Regions from separate parts of the Homo sapiens genome. Here region 1 is linked to region 2. A link means that fine-mapping ties the variant in region 2 to the expression of a gene that starts in the linked region. Tissue or cell type: whole blood. Region 2 holds a variant in brackets; the other region holds the start of a gene. All regions are shown on one strand. Distances are from middle to middle.

The links. PIP is the estimated chance that this variant, and not a neighbour inherited with it, causes the effect.
Region 1: MDH2 starts here. The variant in region 2 is fine-mapped to the expression of MDH2 in whole blood (TOPMed, PIP above 0.99).

What each region holds. Positions count from the first base shown.
Region 1 is chr7:76,044,472-76,052,471 of GRCh38, forward strand. MDH2 (malate dehydrogenase 2) reads left to right here and starts at 3,635. Exons shown (of 9, transcript NM_005918.4): 1 at 3,635-3,755. The coding sequence starts at 3,690. STYXL1 (serine/threonine/tyrosine interacting like 1) reads right to left here and starts at 3,529. Exons shown (of 9, transcript NM_001317785.2): 1 at 3,191-3,529. RefSeq lists enhancers at 3,002-3,784, 3,230-3,319, 3,430-3,509, 3,785-4,566 and a silencer at 3,760-3,919.
Region 2 is chr7:76,106,423-76,114,681 of GRCh38, forward strand. It overlaps LOC124901854 (small nucleolar RNA U13), which reads left to right and starts at 6,376; the gene lies at 6,376-6,474. It also overlaps the pseudogene GTF2IP7 and the pseudogene GRPEL1P3. The variant G/T (reference allele first, on the strand shown) is at 3,544.

The sequences.
Region 1 (8,000 bases), 62 kb before region 2:
TCAAGTTGTTTGGGATGGCCCAAGTAGAAGGCTTGGGAGGTAGCGAGTTCCTCTTCTGTGGAGATGAGGACTTGGGAGGGATGTGGAGGAAACTGAATTCCAGATGTGGGAGGGAGCCTGACAATCTGTGATTCCAGTTTATTGCTCATGGTCTCAACTCTCCCCCTCTACAGAGGTGACTTCCGCCCTGGCCTGAGTTTCAATCCCACAGTTCCTTTTTTCCCCCCTTAAATGAGACATATCTTGCTCTGTCACCCATGTCAGAATGCAGTGGCACAATCATGGCTCACTACAGCCTTGACCTCCCCCGATCGCCTGAGCTCAAGCGATTGTTTCATGTCAGCCTCTTGGGTAGCTGGGACTACAAGCACACACCATCACGCCCAGAGAATTTTCGTACTTTTTGTAGAGATGGGGTTTTGCCATGTTACCCAGGCTGGTCCTGAATTCCTGAGCTCAAGTGATCGTCCGCCTTGGCTGCTCAAAGTGTTGGGATTACAGGCATGAACACGGCCCATACCACTGAAAGGTCTATATGGACAACTCAGCATAACTCCCAATTAAGCCCATCTAAAACGGAACTCTTTATTTTTTCTCCTCTCCTTTGGTATAACCTCCTTTATTTTTCTCCTCTCCTTTGTATAACCCGACTTCCCTCTTTATGTATTTTCCACACCTCTTTCTTTCACTCCTCAAACCCAGATGAGCACAGACTGTTACCCATTCTTCCCATGAGACTTCTCCCACACTGGCCCTACCCACTCCATTTCTATGGCCACCACCGTAATTCAGACCTTTGTCATCCATAAAATAGATTCCTAAACAATCTCCCTGAATAGATTCCTAAACAATCTCCATTTTTTTTTTCCTGGGAATTCTTAGCATACAAGGTCAGTCTAATCTTCCTCAAACACAGTTCTGGCAGTGTCACAAAAGCCTGATTGGCCAGGTGCAGTGGCTCACGCCTATAATCCCAGCACTTTGAGAGGCTGACTCGGGCAGATCACTTGAGGTTAGGAGTTCTAGACCAGCCTGGCCAACATGACAAATCCCTGTCTCTGCTAAAAATACAAAAATTAGCCAGGTGTGGTGGTGCACACCTGTAATCCCAGCTACTTGGGAGGCTGAGGCAGGAGAACTGCGTGAACCCGGAGGTGGAGGTTGCAGTGAGCCGAGATCGCGCCACTGCACTGCAGCCTGGGCAACAGCGTGAGGCTCCATCTCAAATAAATAAACAACCTTTGATAAACACTTGCTTCCCAAGAAATGAAATACAAACTTCTCAGCTAACATTCATGGGACCGGCACAATCTAGTTTTTCCCAACCTGCTGTTTCCAGCTGTACCTAAAACCACTCAACTCTCCACAAATTCACTGAGGCCCTTTCAGCCCAGTCGCATGTTGGACAAAAAAAACAGAAGAAAGACTTAGTACCTGGCAAGACTTAATACCTGGCTCTGAGGTGCTCTCAGTTACAAGACAGAGGAGTAAATAATTACCAGAAGATGCAGTCAGTGATAAGATAAACAAAGGACACTGCTTGCCCTAATGTCCCCACTCCAAAATAAATGATCTATTCACTGTCCCCTGAATACTGGCCTATGCTTATTTTTTCCCGCTAGGATTTTATTTGGCCTTTTTTCTCCTCCTTTCCTGTCTAAACATTTCCCATTGTTAAATGCTCAGGCCCTAGTGCCCCTCCTTTGAGAATTCTGATTCCAAGGCAAGGGATCTTTCCCTCCTCTGGAGTTGAATGTTCCATTGAGAAACACCTACTCTTCCAGCATGTCTCAGCTTATCTGCTGTGTGTGTGTGTGTGTGTGTGTGTGTGTGTGTGTGTGTGTGTGTGTGTGTGTGTGTGTGTGTGTGCGCGCGCGCGCGCGCGCGCTTTTGAGCCGGAGTTTAGCTCTTATCACCCAGGATGGAGTACAATGGCACAATCTTGGCTCACAGCAACCTCCACCTCCTGGGTTCAAGGGATTCTCCTGCCTCAGCCTCCTGAGTAGCTGGGACTACAGGCACACGCCACCATGCCCAGCCAATTTTTGTATATTTAGTAGAGATGGGGTTTCGCCACATTAGCCAGTCTGGTCTCAAACTCCTGACCTCAGGTGATCTGCCCGCCTTGACCTCCCAAAGTGCTGGGATTACAGGCATAAGCCACCACACCCGGCTTTTTTTTTTTTTTTTTTTGAGACAGAGTCTTTCTCCGTCGCCCAAGCTGGAGTACAGTGGGGTTATCTCGGCTCACTGCAACCTCCCTCCACCTCCCGGGTTCAAGCGATTCTCCTGCCTCAGCCTCCGGAGTAGTTGGGGCTACAGGTGTACACCACCACGCTGGGCTAATTTTTGTATTTTTAGTAGAGATGGGGTTTCACCATGTTAGCCAGGCTGGTCATGAACTCCTGGCCTCAAGTGATCGGCCCGCCTCAGCCTCCCAGAGTGCTGGGATTACAGGCATGAGCCACCTTGCCTGGGGGTGTTGTTTAATTTTAAAAATATGTATCAGGCCGGGCGCGGTGGCTCACGCCTGTAATCTCAGCACTTTGGGAGGCCGAGGCGGGTGGATCACGAGGTCAGGAGTTCGAGACCAGCCTGACCAACGTGGTGAAACCCCGTCTCTACTAAAAAAAAAATACAAAAAATTAGCCAGGTGTAGTGGTGCGCTAATCCCAGCTACTCAGGAGAATGAGGCAGGAGAACCACTTGAACCTGACAGGCAGAGGTTGCAGTGAGCCAAGATCGCGCCACTGCACTCCAGCCTGGGCTAGAGAGACTCCGTCTCAAAAAAATAAATAAATTCATACATTTAAGTAATAAACTCATTGTGAGCAAGGAATTCTACTCGACTTTCTGTCTGCGTAAACTCTACAAATCCACTTGGCCTCAGCCACAGTGTCTTTATTCGTAAAGCAGAAACAGTGGGACCGTCAGAGCACTGCCGGGCAGGCGAGAGAAGACAGGAACTGTATGACCACGGAAGTTGTTGTCCCTACAACCTATTTGCTCATCTGGAACACAGAATAGTGGTCCTCTAAAGCTTGCAGGGCTGGAGGTCGCCATTATCAGCAGTGGTGTCACTAAACCTGAACCCAAGGGTCTCTGCAACTTGGGAAACGACGGCCCGGATCTGAGGAGATGGCCCCTTCCTCCCACCCCGCCTAAGGACTCTCAGCCTCCCTGACCCTACCTTTCCGGAGCTCAGAGTCCCCTCTGGCCTCCAAGGGCAGAAGGAATGGGTTTGGCTGAGGTCGGGGGCTCGGGTCTGGGACGCGCTCCACCTCCCCGGCTGCGCGACTATGGCCAGGCTCCCTGTCGGAGCCTCTGCCTGGGGCCCCACCTGGAAAAATGGCTCCTCTAAGGCGCTTCCAGCCTAAAGCCCGTCCTCTTCCACCTCTTGGGTGCAGACTGGCCCTCCCACTCCGACCGCAGGTCCCCCACCGGCCACACAGACGGCTACGCTAGAACCCAGCCAAACACCGGGGTTGCCAGGATGGTCCCACAGCTTTCCTTTCCGACTCCCGGAAGTGGCCGTGATCTCACGAGATCCCGGAGGCGAGCGCGACCGGAAGTCCGGTCACTCTCGCGAGGCCCCAGAGAGCAGGCGCTGGGCAGTGTGGAGGTCGTTGGAGTCACTTCCCCGTCACCAGCTCCTGTGCCTGCCAGTCGGTGCCCCTCCCGCTCCAGCCATGCTCTCCGCCCTCGCCCGGCCTGCCAGCGCTGCTCTCCGCCGCAGCTTCAGCACCTCGGCCCAGGTAGGCCAGACGAGGGGCGGCCTGCAGGCGGAGGCCCCCCGGCCCGGGCCACGTGCGTCCCCGGTTCGCGGGCAGCTCTGACCCTCTCCAGGCCAGCCTGGACCGCAGGGATGCCCGGCACTGGCTGGAGACTGTGGCGCCCGGGGCAGGCCCTGACACTGGCCTGGAGGTGCGGGGGAGAAAGCCGGGGAAAAGGGGGCGAGGTAGTCCCGCTCCAGGGCCGGTCCATTTGTCAGGGTTCCCCCAGGTCTCCCAGATTTCCCAGAGGACCTGCTCTTGGCTTGCACGCCTTCAAGGTTGGGAAACCAGGGCTCTGCATCTGAAAGTAAACTTACGTTTTTTTCTGCAGCGTTCCATTGCTTTGACGTAGCTAATCTCCTTGCAGCATCCGTGTGAGTTGTGCGTGAATAAAAGAAATCGTATACTTCCTAATTCCATAGTATGGACAAACCGAGGCTAGAGAACTGGGCCAGGGTTACAGTCATTTGGCCAGAGGATTAGAATTCAGCGCTTCTGACCTGAAGACGGCTTCCTCTTAACCTTTTTGGAGGATCTCTCCTGCTGTGGGCGGACTGAGCCTGCCGCCAGGTGTCTTAACAGTGCTTGACTTGGCCCGCGACCACTTAAGCCTAGGAGCCTAGGCTATTTTTAGCCATCTTCTAGAATGGTGGTTCTTAAACTCTGCAGTGTGTCAGAATCACCAGAAAGCTAATAAAAAACAGACGTCTGGGTTCATTGAAGAAGCTTAAGACTGCGGGGGGGGGGGGGGGGGTCCGCATTTTTACCAGGTGAATCTAATTAAACCTAATTTTGAGAACCCAGGAGGTGCTCGCATTGCCTTTTAATTACGACGCCCAAGAGGGAGGTAATTTTAAAGGGGAATCCAAATTTATCATCGAAGTTCTCGAGTTTCCTGTACATCCAGTTCATTTGAAAAATAAATACAAATGCTCCTGGATTGATGGCTACTTCCCATACCCATCGCAAGTTGGTAATATCCTAAGTCAAAAGGCGAGTTTAACTTTGTGTATTTTCAACTTGCAATGGGTTCCCACAGGCAACCCCATTGTAAGTTGAATGTACCAAATGCTTTTGCGCTGCGGTGAAGTGGGGGCCCAGCTGTATACAGATAAGTACATTAAGTACCTGTGCTTGCCAACAACTATGCTGGGTGCTGCAGGGGATACCAAGATAAGTGAGAAGTGACACTTGATATGGGACAGGAATGAGTAAACTTAGGACAGGTGGAAGCGATGAAGGTCTTAGGGAATGAGTAAACTTAGGACAGGTGGAGGCGATGAAGGTCTTAGGGAATGAGTAAACAGGACAGGAGGGATGAGGTGTGGGGGAGGGGCAGCCAACCAAAGAGAGGACAGGGGTGTCCAGGGAGAGGTTGAGTTTTGGTAGGACCTTCAGATATCCGACATATTTATTGAGCTAGGTACTGGAAATACAGCGGTGAACAAAACACAGAAGTCCCTGCTCTCACGGAAATTACTAGATATTTTACTTATTGCCCCACTCATTATAAAGTATCTTAAAATAGTGATGAACATGCAAGAAAAATGGGGATTGTAGGGTGCTTGTGTTAGGGAAGAGGGTACCAATTTTATTTACTTTTTTTGATGCAGTGCCTCGCCCTGTCGACAGGCTGGAGTGCAGTGGCGTGATCTCGGTTCACTGCAGCCTCCACCTCCCAGGTTGGAGCGATTCTCCTGCCTCAGCCTCCCGAATAGCTGGGACTACAGGCGCGCACCACCGTGCCCAGCTAATTTTTGTGTTTTTAGTAGAGATGGGGTTTCACCATGTTGGCCAGGATGGACCTGACAGAGTCCCACTCTGTTGCCCAGGATGGAGTGCAGTGGCGCCATCTTGGCTCACTGCAACCAACTCTTGGGCTCAAGCTATCCTCCTGCCTCATCCTCCCGAGTAGGTGGGAATCACAGGCAAGGGCTACGACAGCTGGGTAATTTTTGTAGTTTTAGTAGAGATGGGGTTTCACCATGTTGGCCAGGCTGGTCTCAAACTCCTGGCCTTAAGTGATCCACCCTCCTTGGCCTCCCAAAGTGCTGGGATTACAGGCGTGAGCCACCACTCCCAGCCGAGGGTAGCAGTTTTACATCAGCCAGGGTAGGCCTCACGCAGAGTGAGATGTTTGAGTAAAGTCTGAAGGAAGCAGAGATCACATCATATGGAAAGAGTATTGCAGGTAAGGGATATGTCTCAGGATGTAGCTGAGAGCCCTTGGAGAAGCATGGGGCATGCCTTGAAGGTTTGAGAAAATGAGGCTAGGGTAGTTCCAGAGAAGGCAGTGGAGGTAACAGAACAGGCCTTGTAAAACTTTGGTATTTTCTCAGAAATGGGGCGGCCAGTTGAGGGTTTTCAGCTGCGTAATGACTTGCTCTTCCTTCCATTTTAACAAGATGGTCTTAGGAGTGAGAGAAAGGTAGGTTAGGAGTTCATTGTGGTTATCTAGGTGCAGGTGGTAAGAAATGATTGAATTCTGGGTATTCATTGATGGTACCAGAAGGATTTGCTGATGTGTGATTAGATAAGGGGTCGGGGATGACACCAAGGTTTTGGGCCTTGGAGTTGGGCTGAAATAGGCAAGACTTATAGAAGAGAGTGGGTTTAACCAGGGAGAAGATATCAGGAGTTCAGTTTTTATTTATTTACTGAGAGTCTCGCTCTGTTGCCCAGGCTGGAGTACAGTGGCGTGATCTCGGCTCACTGCAGCCTCCGCCTCCTGGGTTCAAGTGGTTCTCTCACCTCAGCCTCCTGAGTAGCTGGGATTACAGGTGCTGCCACCACGCCCAACTAATTTTTTTTTGTATTTTCAGTAGAGATGGGGTTTCGCCATGTTGGCCAGGCTGGTCTCAAACTCCTGACCTCAGGTGATCCACCTGTCTTGGCCTCCCAAGGTACTGGGATTATAGACGTGAGCCACCACACCCGGCCAGGATCTCAGTTTTTCATATGTTCAATTTAAAATGCCTGTTGGGCATACAAGCGACATTGTTGAGAAGGCAGCTGATGAAAGCAGAAAGAAAGATGGGCTTGAGCCCATGGTGCAGTGGTCTCCAGACTTTGGATTTTTTTTTTTTTTTTTTTTGAGACGGAGTTCCGCTCTTGTTGCCCAGGCTGGAGTGCAATGGTGCGATCTCAGCTCACCGCAACCTCCGCCTCCCAGGTTCAAGCCATTCTCCTGCCTCAGCCTTCCGAGTAGCTGGGATTACAGGCATGCGCCACCATGCCTGGCTAATTTTGTATTTTTAGTAGAGACAGGGTTTCTCCATGTTGGTCAGGCTGGTCTCAAACTCCCGACCTCAGGTGATGCGCCCATCTCAGCCTCCCAAAGTGCTAGGATTAAACGCGTGAGCCACCACGCCTAGCTGGATCCTGTATCTTTAACAGTAAAAGCGTAGGAAGCACATAGCCCCAATGTATTTACTTATAGGTATATGTACTAATATATACATTACAATATAAACTCAAGTAGAAATTTTAAAACAAACCATAACACGTTATAAAGTGTTAAAACTTATAAATGAAGGCAGTGTTAACATATGTCGGTTTTCAACACAGTTGCCAAGCAGTGTGCTGTTGATAGCCACTCTGCCACCCAGCAAAGGTCAGCGGGTCTGGAAGACAGCTCTTTGACAAGGAGATCATGATCTAACCTCCGGGCCACCAAAGATTTTCATCTCATTGCAAAGCATGTAAAGATTATACTACTTAAGGATTGTGGTTTTGTAAAAATTAAGTTGGTGACATCCTGTAATATACAAACAGTGACATCACCTTGACAAAGTGAAAGCAAAGAAACCAGTGAGGCAGTCTTCTTCCCCTCCCTCCCCCATGTTGTGTTCACCTTATGTACACATGGGACCCATCCATTTAAGCACCCTAGCGAGGGCACAGGTCGGTCCATTTCTTGGTAGAGATTAATTCTTTGTTAGATAAAGATAGAGACAGTCTGGGCATGGTAGCTTACACCTATAATCCCAGCACTTGAGCTCAGAAGTTTGAGACCAGCCTGGGCAGTGTGGCAAAACCTCATTTCTACAAAATGAGTGGTGTGTACCTGTAGTCCCAGCTACAGCTAAGGTGGGGAGGATGGCTTGAACCGAAAATGCAGAGGTTGCAGTGAGCCAAGATCGCACCACTGCACTCCAGCCTGGGTGAGAGAGGGAGACCCTATCTCAAAAAAAAAAAAAAAAAAAAAGATACACTCATTGCAGCAGT
Region 2 (8,259 bases):
ACTCTGAGTTGAGTCATACATCAACTCTGATGACTTTTGTTTGCACTCCCCTTAAGTCATCCACAGGAACAGCTACTTTACATAGAAAAGTCAATCTCAGAGGGTTGACTAACTTGCCCAATTACTGAAAAAGGTAAAGCTTCAATTAGCACCCAGGCTCATCTGATGCTAGTATTCCCTCTCCACCCCTCCATGTGGCTTCTCTTTATTTATTTTAATTTTCTTTGAGACAGAGTTTCACTCGTTGCCCAGGCTGGAGTGCAATGGCGCTATCTTGGCTCACTGCAACCTCTACCTCCTGGGTTCAAGCGATTCTCCTGCCTCAGGCTCCCAAGTAGCTGGGATTACAGGTGCCTGCCACAATACCCATTTAATTTTTTGTACTTTTAGTAGATAGGGGGTTTCACCATATTGACCAGGCTGGTCTTGAACTCCTGACCTCAAGTGATCCACCCGCCTAATCCTCCCAAAGTGCTGGGATTACAGGCATGAGCCACCGTGCCTGGCCTTGGCTTCCCTTTAATAAATCACCACTCAATTTGATGTGGAGGCTCTGTTAGTTCGCAAAATATAATGAGTGGATTATTTCCAAATCCACTTCCTCTGTTTTATCTATCAGTGTAATCAAGGGCCAGGGTCTTCCCTTGTTCTTGCCTCAAGGTGAAACAGAAGTGGCTTCCCTGTGCTCCGCAGCAGGTTAGACCTAGGCTTAAATCCTGAAGAGTGCTGAGACTCCACTGCACACTGCCATGCCGAGGCCCCTGTGATGTGTCTCGACAGGGGTCCTCTCCCTCCAAGCTCCATGAACCCCAGTGCTGGGACCCTGGTCACCAGCCTAAACTTAGTCTCAGAGTTCAGTAACCTTTAGGAACCCTGAAGCCCGTGACTTCTCACACCCCTGCCATCCTATTCTTAGTTCTCTGTCTGTATTAACTCAATTAATCCTGACAACTTTTGATGCAGAAACTATTGTTTTTTATGTTTTACAGGTGAAGAAACTGAGGCTTGGAGACGCAATGCAGCCTGCCCAAAATCACATGGTTAATAAGTTGCAGAACTAGAATTCAAACTCCAAGTCTACCTCCTGGACCCAAGCTCTTAACCCCTGTGCTATGAGCTAATAACATATGGAGAATTTTGATTATTTTCCTTAGCATTTACCACCATATAACATAATATGCATTATACTTATTTATCTTGTTTATGCCTGTCTCTCCCACTAGACTATAAGCCCCACGAGGGCAAAGATCTTTATTAACTGTATCAGCATCTAGAATAGGCCCCAACCATAGAGTAGGCACCCAGTACATATATATATATATATATACACACACACACACACGTTTATACACACACATATACATACACATAGATATATAATTTTGTATTTATATTTTTGAGACAGAGTCTCTGTCGCCAGGCTGGAGTGCAGTGGCGCAATCTCGGCTCACTGCAACCTCCGCCTCCTGGATTCAAGCCATTCTCGTGCCTTAGCCTCCCAAACAGCTGGGATCACAGGCCTGCGCCACCATGCCTGGCTAATTTTTGTATTTTTAGTAGAGACGGGGTTTTACCATGTTGTCCAGGCTACTCTTGAACTCCCAGCCTCAAGTGATCCACCCACCTCAGCCTCCCATAGTGCTGGGATTACAGGTATGAGCCACCAGGCCCAGCCGACATCCCCTGCCTTGATACAGATATTCACAGCTTCCTGCTTGAGGAAATGTTAATGGACCAAGAACACAGTCCCCCTATTCCTTGGAGATTTCAGAGATTGAAAACAATCTCAAACACCAAACACAACTTACCAAAAGCTGCCTTGAGGGAGATGGATAGGTGAGGTCACCACATTCCTCGTCTTTCTGACACCACAGAGAAGCTTCCACTCTAAGGAAGCAGAAACATGAGCTGTTGCTTTCTCTTAAGGTTTGAAACTCAGGTGCCTTATTTCCCCCAATGTATTCTTCCATTAGTAGGTAGTAAGTATAAAGCAAAACAAAATAAGCAACTACCTGATCCTCTTTTGAATGGCAAGATCTTTCTTCTCATCATCAGTGAGCCGAGATCGTGCCACCACACTCCAGCCTGGGCAACAGAGCAAGACTCCTTCTCAAAAAAATAACAAGTCAGTGGATGTCATCTTTCCTCATTCCTCCCAGGGGTGCGCATTTTTCAGCATTCCCCAGTCACATCTTTCACTAGCATTGGATTGATGACATTTCCCATAGCACCCAGTCTTCCAGGCTCACTGGGGTTCTGGACAGAACGCATATTTACAGAGATGAGTCATGATGTACTTTTCAATCTGATCCATTATCTTCTCAACCCTTTCTGGAGGCACTGAAATAGCCAAACAGACAGAAAAGCTCAAGAGAGTATATATACTCCTTGTACCGGTAGTAAGTAAGCCACTCCTTGTACTGGCAGTAAGCCTAAAAGTACTCACAGATTATATTAATCCTTCAGGAGAGTAAAATCTATCCATTAATATTATTTCCAATATCCACTGTTGCAGGATTTTTCCTTAGTTCAGCTAAAGATGGGGTCCTTGTCCGTCTCAAGGCCACAAAAATTTAGGCTCGCAGACGGTTTGAATAGTGAGTAAGACAGGGTTTTATTGGGACTCTCACAAGGCCAGAGTCCCTGCTAGAGTGCTTTCCGCCAGCAGCTAGAATACTGGGTTTTACACAGTAAGAAGACGTGCCAGGCTCCTCCCCACTATCAACAGTGCAAACATCCTGAAGTTCCACCCCAGTGCACAGGCCGGTTGGAGTTTTTCCGGGGAGCTCCACCCCACTGCACAGGCCGGTTGGAGTTTTTCCGGGGACCCCTTCCTACCTAGCAGTCTCACCATGACCATCTCATTCTTTTTGCTACATCTACATATTATTAAATAGATTTAATGCATGTTTTGATAATTTACGTATTTTATGGACACTTCTATTTATCTAACCCACTGAACATTTTTGGTGGCTTTATAACATTCCATTATATTAACTGACTTATTCGACTCTCCTCTACCACTGTGCATTTAGGTTGATTCCCCTCTTTCACTGTTGTGCATCATAGCTATAAATAATTTTGTAAGGACTATCTTCTTTTGGGTTACTTCTCTGTGATACATCTCCAAAAGTGGCATTAACCTCTTAATAAGAATAAACAACTTTATAGTGCTAAGTATCTATTGCTAGCCACACTCCTCAGAAACTCAGTGCACACTGTCATTAACCACGTGTATGCGCTTATTTCCCTATGGCCCTTACAACATTGGGCTTGATAATTTGTATTTGATTTTACTGATTTTATATGTAGAACATACGTATGTATTCCTCACTTTCTGCCAAAGAATATTTAAAGTCTATTTAAAAGATAAATGCAGTTCAGCACAACAGACTAGAAAATAAAAAGAATAACAAATAACTGTAATCCCAGTGCTCTGGAAGGCTGCAGCTAGAGGATCGATTGAGCCTAGGAGTTCAAGACCAGCCTGGGCAACATAGTGAGACCCCACCTCCAGTAAAGACAGATAGATAGATAGATAGA[G/T]AGAGAGAGAGAGATACATAGATAGACAGACAGATTATGATAGATATTTTAAAAATTCTTTAAAAACTTTAGGCTGGGTGTGGTGGCTCACGCCTGTAATCCCAACACTTTGGGAGGCCAAGGCGGGCAGATCACAAGGTCAGGAGATCGAGACCATCCTGGCTAACATGGTGAAACTCCGTCTATATTAAAAATACAAAAACAAAATTATCTGGGCGTGGTGGCTGGCGCCTGTAGTCCCAGCTACTCAGGAGGCTGAGGCAGGAGAATGGTGTGAACCTGGGAGGCGGAGCTTGCAGTGAGCCGAGACTGCACCACTGCACTCCAGCCTGGGCAACAGAGTGAGACTCCACATCAAAAAAAAAAAAAAAAAAAAATCACACATGGAGAGAGACCTGAAGCAGAGCCACAGATGACAAGACAGAAATGTTCTCCTGGAATATGTCTAAATTAGTCAAGAGTCAGCCCATACATCTGTCTCTAACTAAACTTTTTAGCAACCATCACTAAGATGAAAACAGTCACATAATTCAGGGTTCAAAACATGAAAGCAAACTAATTCTTCAGGTGAAATTCTGACACCAAAATCAGAAATTTCTCCCAAGGGTTCTCACAAGGATGTCACAGTAGAAGAGCATGAATAAGGCCAAGAACAAACCCCCAGAACTGGCTGTCTCAGACCTCATCTACACAGGCCACTGACATCACACGCCAAGCGCCAATACATCCTGTGGAAGCCCACAGCAGTCTGACCGTCTGGCTTAACTCTAAAAGGATGGCAGGACACTTGGGGTCAGAGGCAGTCACCTCATTCCCTCAGTGAAAATGGCCAAGCACTCATGGCACTTTGTGATCACCTTGACTGCAGCCCTAATCACTGTCAACTAGTTACTCATATACATGTCATTTGGCTGAATTAAAATTGATCCCTCATCTATAAAAGCCTAGGTACTACCTTTAGTAAAGTTTAGATATTTCACTGTATTAAGCTCTTATTTATATTCATGACTTCCCATGTTTTTTATTGCACAGATTTTTAAAAAGTTAATATTATTAAGCCTTTTATCTGGTCATTAAAAACAATTCTTTTGGCCAGGCGCAGTGCCTCACACCTGTAATCCCAGAACTTTGGGAGGCCGAGGCGGGCAGATCACCTTAGGTCAGGAGTTCAAGACCAGCCTGGCCAACATGGCAAAACCCCGTCTCTACTAAAAATACAAAAATTAGCTGGGCAGGCTACTGCACACCTGAAATCCAGCTACTCGGGAGGCTGAGGCAGGACAATCGCTTGAACCCGAGAGGTGGAGGTTGCAGTCAGCCAAGATTGCGCCGTTGCACTCCAGCCTGGGCGGCAGAGCGACACTCTGTCTCAAAAACAAACAAACCAAACAAACACATTTTTTGTAAGTTTTTAATTTTATTTCTCTTTTTATTTTATTTGTTTTTTAATATATAGAAACAAGGTCTCACTATGTTGCCCAGTCTTGTCTCAAACTCCTGGGCTTAACTGATCCTCCTGCCTTGACCTCTAAAAGTGCTGGGATTATAGGTGTGAGCCACCATGCCCAGGTAAAACAATTTTTTGATAGTTCAATTTTTGCTTCTCTCTACAGCTGAAATACGTATCCTAAGGTACTGTTCATATATATATATATATTTTTCTTTTCTTTTCTTTTTTTTCCCCCGAGACGGAGTCTCGCTCTCTCACACAGGCTGCAGTGGTGTGATCTCATTGTAACCTCTGCCTCCCTGGTTCAAGCGATTCTCCTGCCTTGGCCTCCCAAGTAGCTGGAATTACAGGCAGGAACCACCACGCCCAAGCTAATTTTTTTTTTTTTTTTTTTTTTTTTTGAGATAGTCTCACTCTGTCCCTAAGGAGTACAATGGTGTGATCTTGGCTCAGTGCAACCTCCACCTCCCGGTTCAAGTGATCCTCCTGCCTCAGCCTCCTGAGTAGCTAGGATTACAGGCACCTACTACAACACTCAGATAATTTTTATATTTTTAGTAGTGATGGAGTTTCCCCATGTTGACCAGGCTGCTCTCAAACTCCTAGCCTCAACTCATCTGGCTGCCTCGGCCTCCCAAAGTGATGGGATTATAGGCATGAGCCACCATACCCAGCTCATATCCTAATCTACTTTCTTCTCAATTTTTTCATGTCAAGCTCTTTAATTTGGCTGGAATGTAAGGTGCATGGTATGAAACACAGAACTAAAACTCTATACAAGTGTATCTGTCATCACCATCAGCAGTTAGTAAAGCACAACCTTGTTCCCCCTCGTCCTCACAGGTGTCATGTAACTTGCTCCTGAGAAATTAAATCTATTTCTCAAATCTCTGGCTGATATCACTGTTCTGTATTTTCATTTTTTACCCAAATCTCATCTAGATGTGATGACTTTCATTTTAGAATGTATTAAAAACTCTGCTGGATTTAGAAACATCCCCGCTTCACAAATTCTTGCTTTTTACCCCCTCACAAAAATATCATATGGTATATTTGTTTCCTTGTTTTTCTATAATAAATAATGTAACACGGTAATTCAAATGATATTTTAAGTGTTTATACTGACCTGCAAAGTATTTTTTTTTTTGGAGACGGAGTCTCACTCTGTTGCCCAGGCTGGAGTGCAGCGGTGCAAACTTGGCTCACTGAAACCTCCGCCTCCCAGGTTAAAGCAATTCCCCTGCCTCAGTCTCCTGAGTAGCTGGGACTACAGGCGTACGCCACCACGCCTGGCTAATTTTTGTATTTTTAGTAGACACAGAGTTTCGCCATGAGGGCCAGGTTGGTCTGTAACTCTTGACCTCAAGTGATCCGCCTGCCTCAGCCTCCCAAAGCACTGGGAGTGTGATGACTAGGTTTTCACGTGTGAGATATGCCTCACTCACACCTTGTTACAACACTGGCACATTGCCTGTCGGATGTGAACAAAGACAAAAAAAGACCCTCACGCTCATAAGGGTGGAACTTGCTGTGACAGAGTTCATCTTGGCAGTGCTTGCTGAACACTTCCTGAATCTGGACTTCACTCATTGTGAGTCTCACAGAGAGAGGTTCTTCAGGTGAGGGTTATTGTCTTTAATTTCTTCTTCTGGAACACACTGTGTTGCCTTCTCCAAAACATCTGCAACCTCTAACGAGTCCTTGCAGAAGCCCTGAATGCTATACATATTTCCCTCCTCCACCAATTTTTGGCTGCTCTGCTCTGAGCCCTCAGTATCTGCCAGTGCTTGCTTATCTTCTTCCACAGCCTCCTTCAGCTGCTCTTCTAACTTGACTTCTTCCATGAGTATCTTGTCCATAGAGGGAGTATCTGTCCTCCATTTGGTTTGGATCCACATCCTCTTCCAAGTGCTGGCAACTGTTCTTTTGTTTTGTAGCTGTGTGCAGAACTGAGGAGAAGGCCTGGAGACAATGCCAACACCGGGAGACCGCGTGGCACCAGCCTCACGCATGGAGCCGCCGTGGCTGCCCCGGGATGATGATTTAAGTTTCCCCTCGCCCATCACTATATGCTTCTATGAAATGTTTTAAATTATTTTTATTCCTTCAGCATAATTATCAAATACATCTTTTATCTATTTTTTTCCTTATGACTTACAGATTCTGAGAGCTCAGAGCTATTTCCACTGCCTCACTTCTCATCCTCACTGCTTCTAGTTTTAAAATTAGGTCCTGGGTTGCTACCCCCGCTGAGGTTCTCACAATAATTAAAGCCTATTTGCTGGTTAAGGTTGCTTTGTTTTGGATACATACTTCTGTTCTTACAGTAATTACACAGCAGGGCAAATTACTCCTTGCATAAATATACACTTTAGAACAATGGAGTCATTTTAAAATATAGAAGGACACTTATCTTTCTACTTATTGTGGGAAAGATCATGGAAATGAAGATATAGTCATGTCTTAAACTGTATATTTTTTGTCCTCATGCAGGTACAAGGCTTTAAGTACATAATATATAATCAGTATCACTTTTTTTTTTTCTTTGAGACAGAGTTTTTTTGCTCCTGTTGCCAAGGCTGGAGGTGCAATGGCGCGATCTCGGCTACCTGCAACCTTCGCCTCCCAGGTTCAAGTGATTCTCCTGCCTCAGCCTCCCTAGTAGCTGGGATGACAGGCGCCCACTACCACGCCCAGCTAATTTTTTGTATTTTTAGTAGAGACAGGGTTTCACAATGCTGGCAAGGCTGGTCTCGAACTCCTGACCTCAGGCGATCCACCCACCTTGGCCTCCCAAAGTGCTGGGATTACAGGCATGAGCCACCGTGCCCAGCTCAGTATCAGATTTTTACAGAAGGACTGGCTAGAAAAAGAACAATGAAACAAGCAAAAGGTGTTACGTTGTGCTTAACTGCTTCCTGAGAAAAAAGAGCTTATCAGAATGACTACTAAGATGTCTTGTTGTAGAAACTGAATTGATTGCCCTGAAGGGAGTATTAAGGGATTAATAAAAATTAAAAAAATAAAAATAACTGAATTGAGAAACCCAAAAAATGGGCACTCCAGCCCATTTTAATAATAATTATTATTATTATTATTCAAGTTATGTTGTACATATTCGGTTTCAAAATTTAAAAATTTAAAAATTAAGCTTTATTAATTTGGTTCATCAATTTAAATTCTTGCTATGATTTGTAAGAACAGAAAAGTAGCTGGTGACAATCGTATGTTCAACATAAAAGGATTTTGTGTTAATGACATGGCTG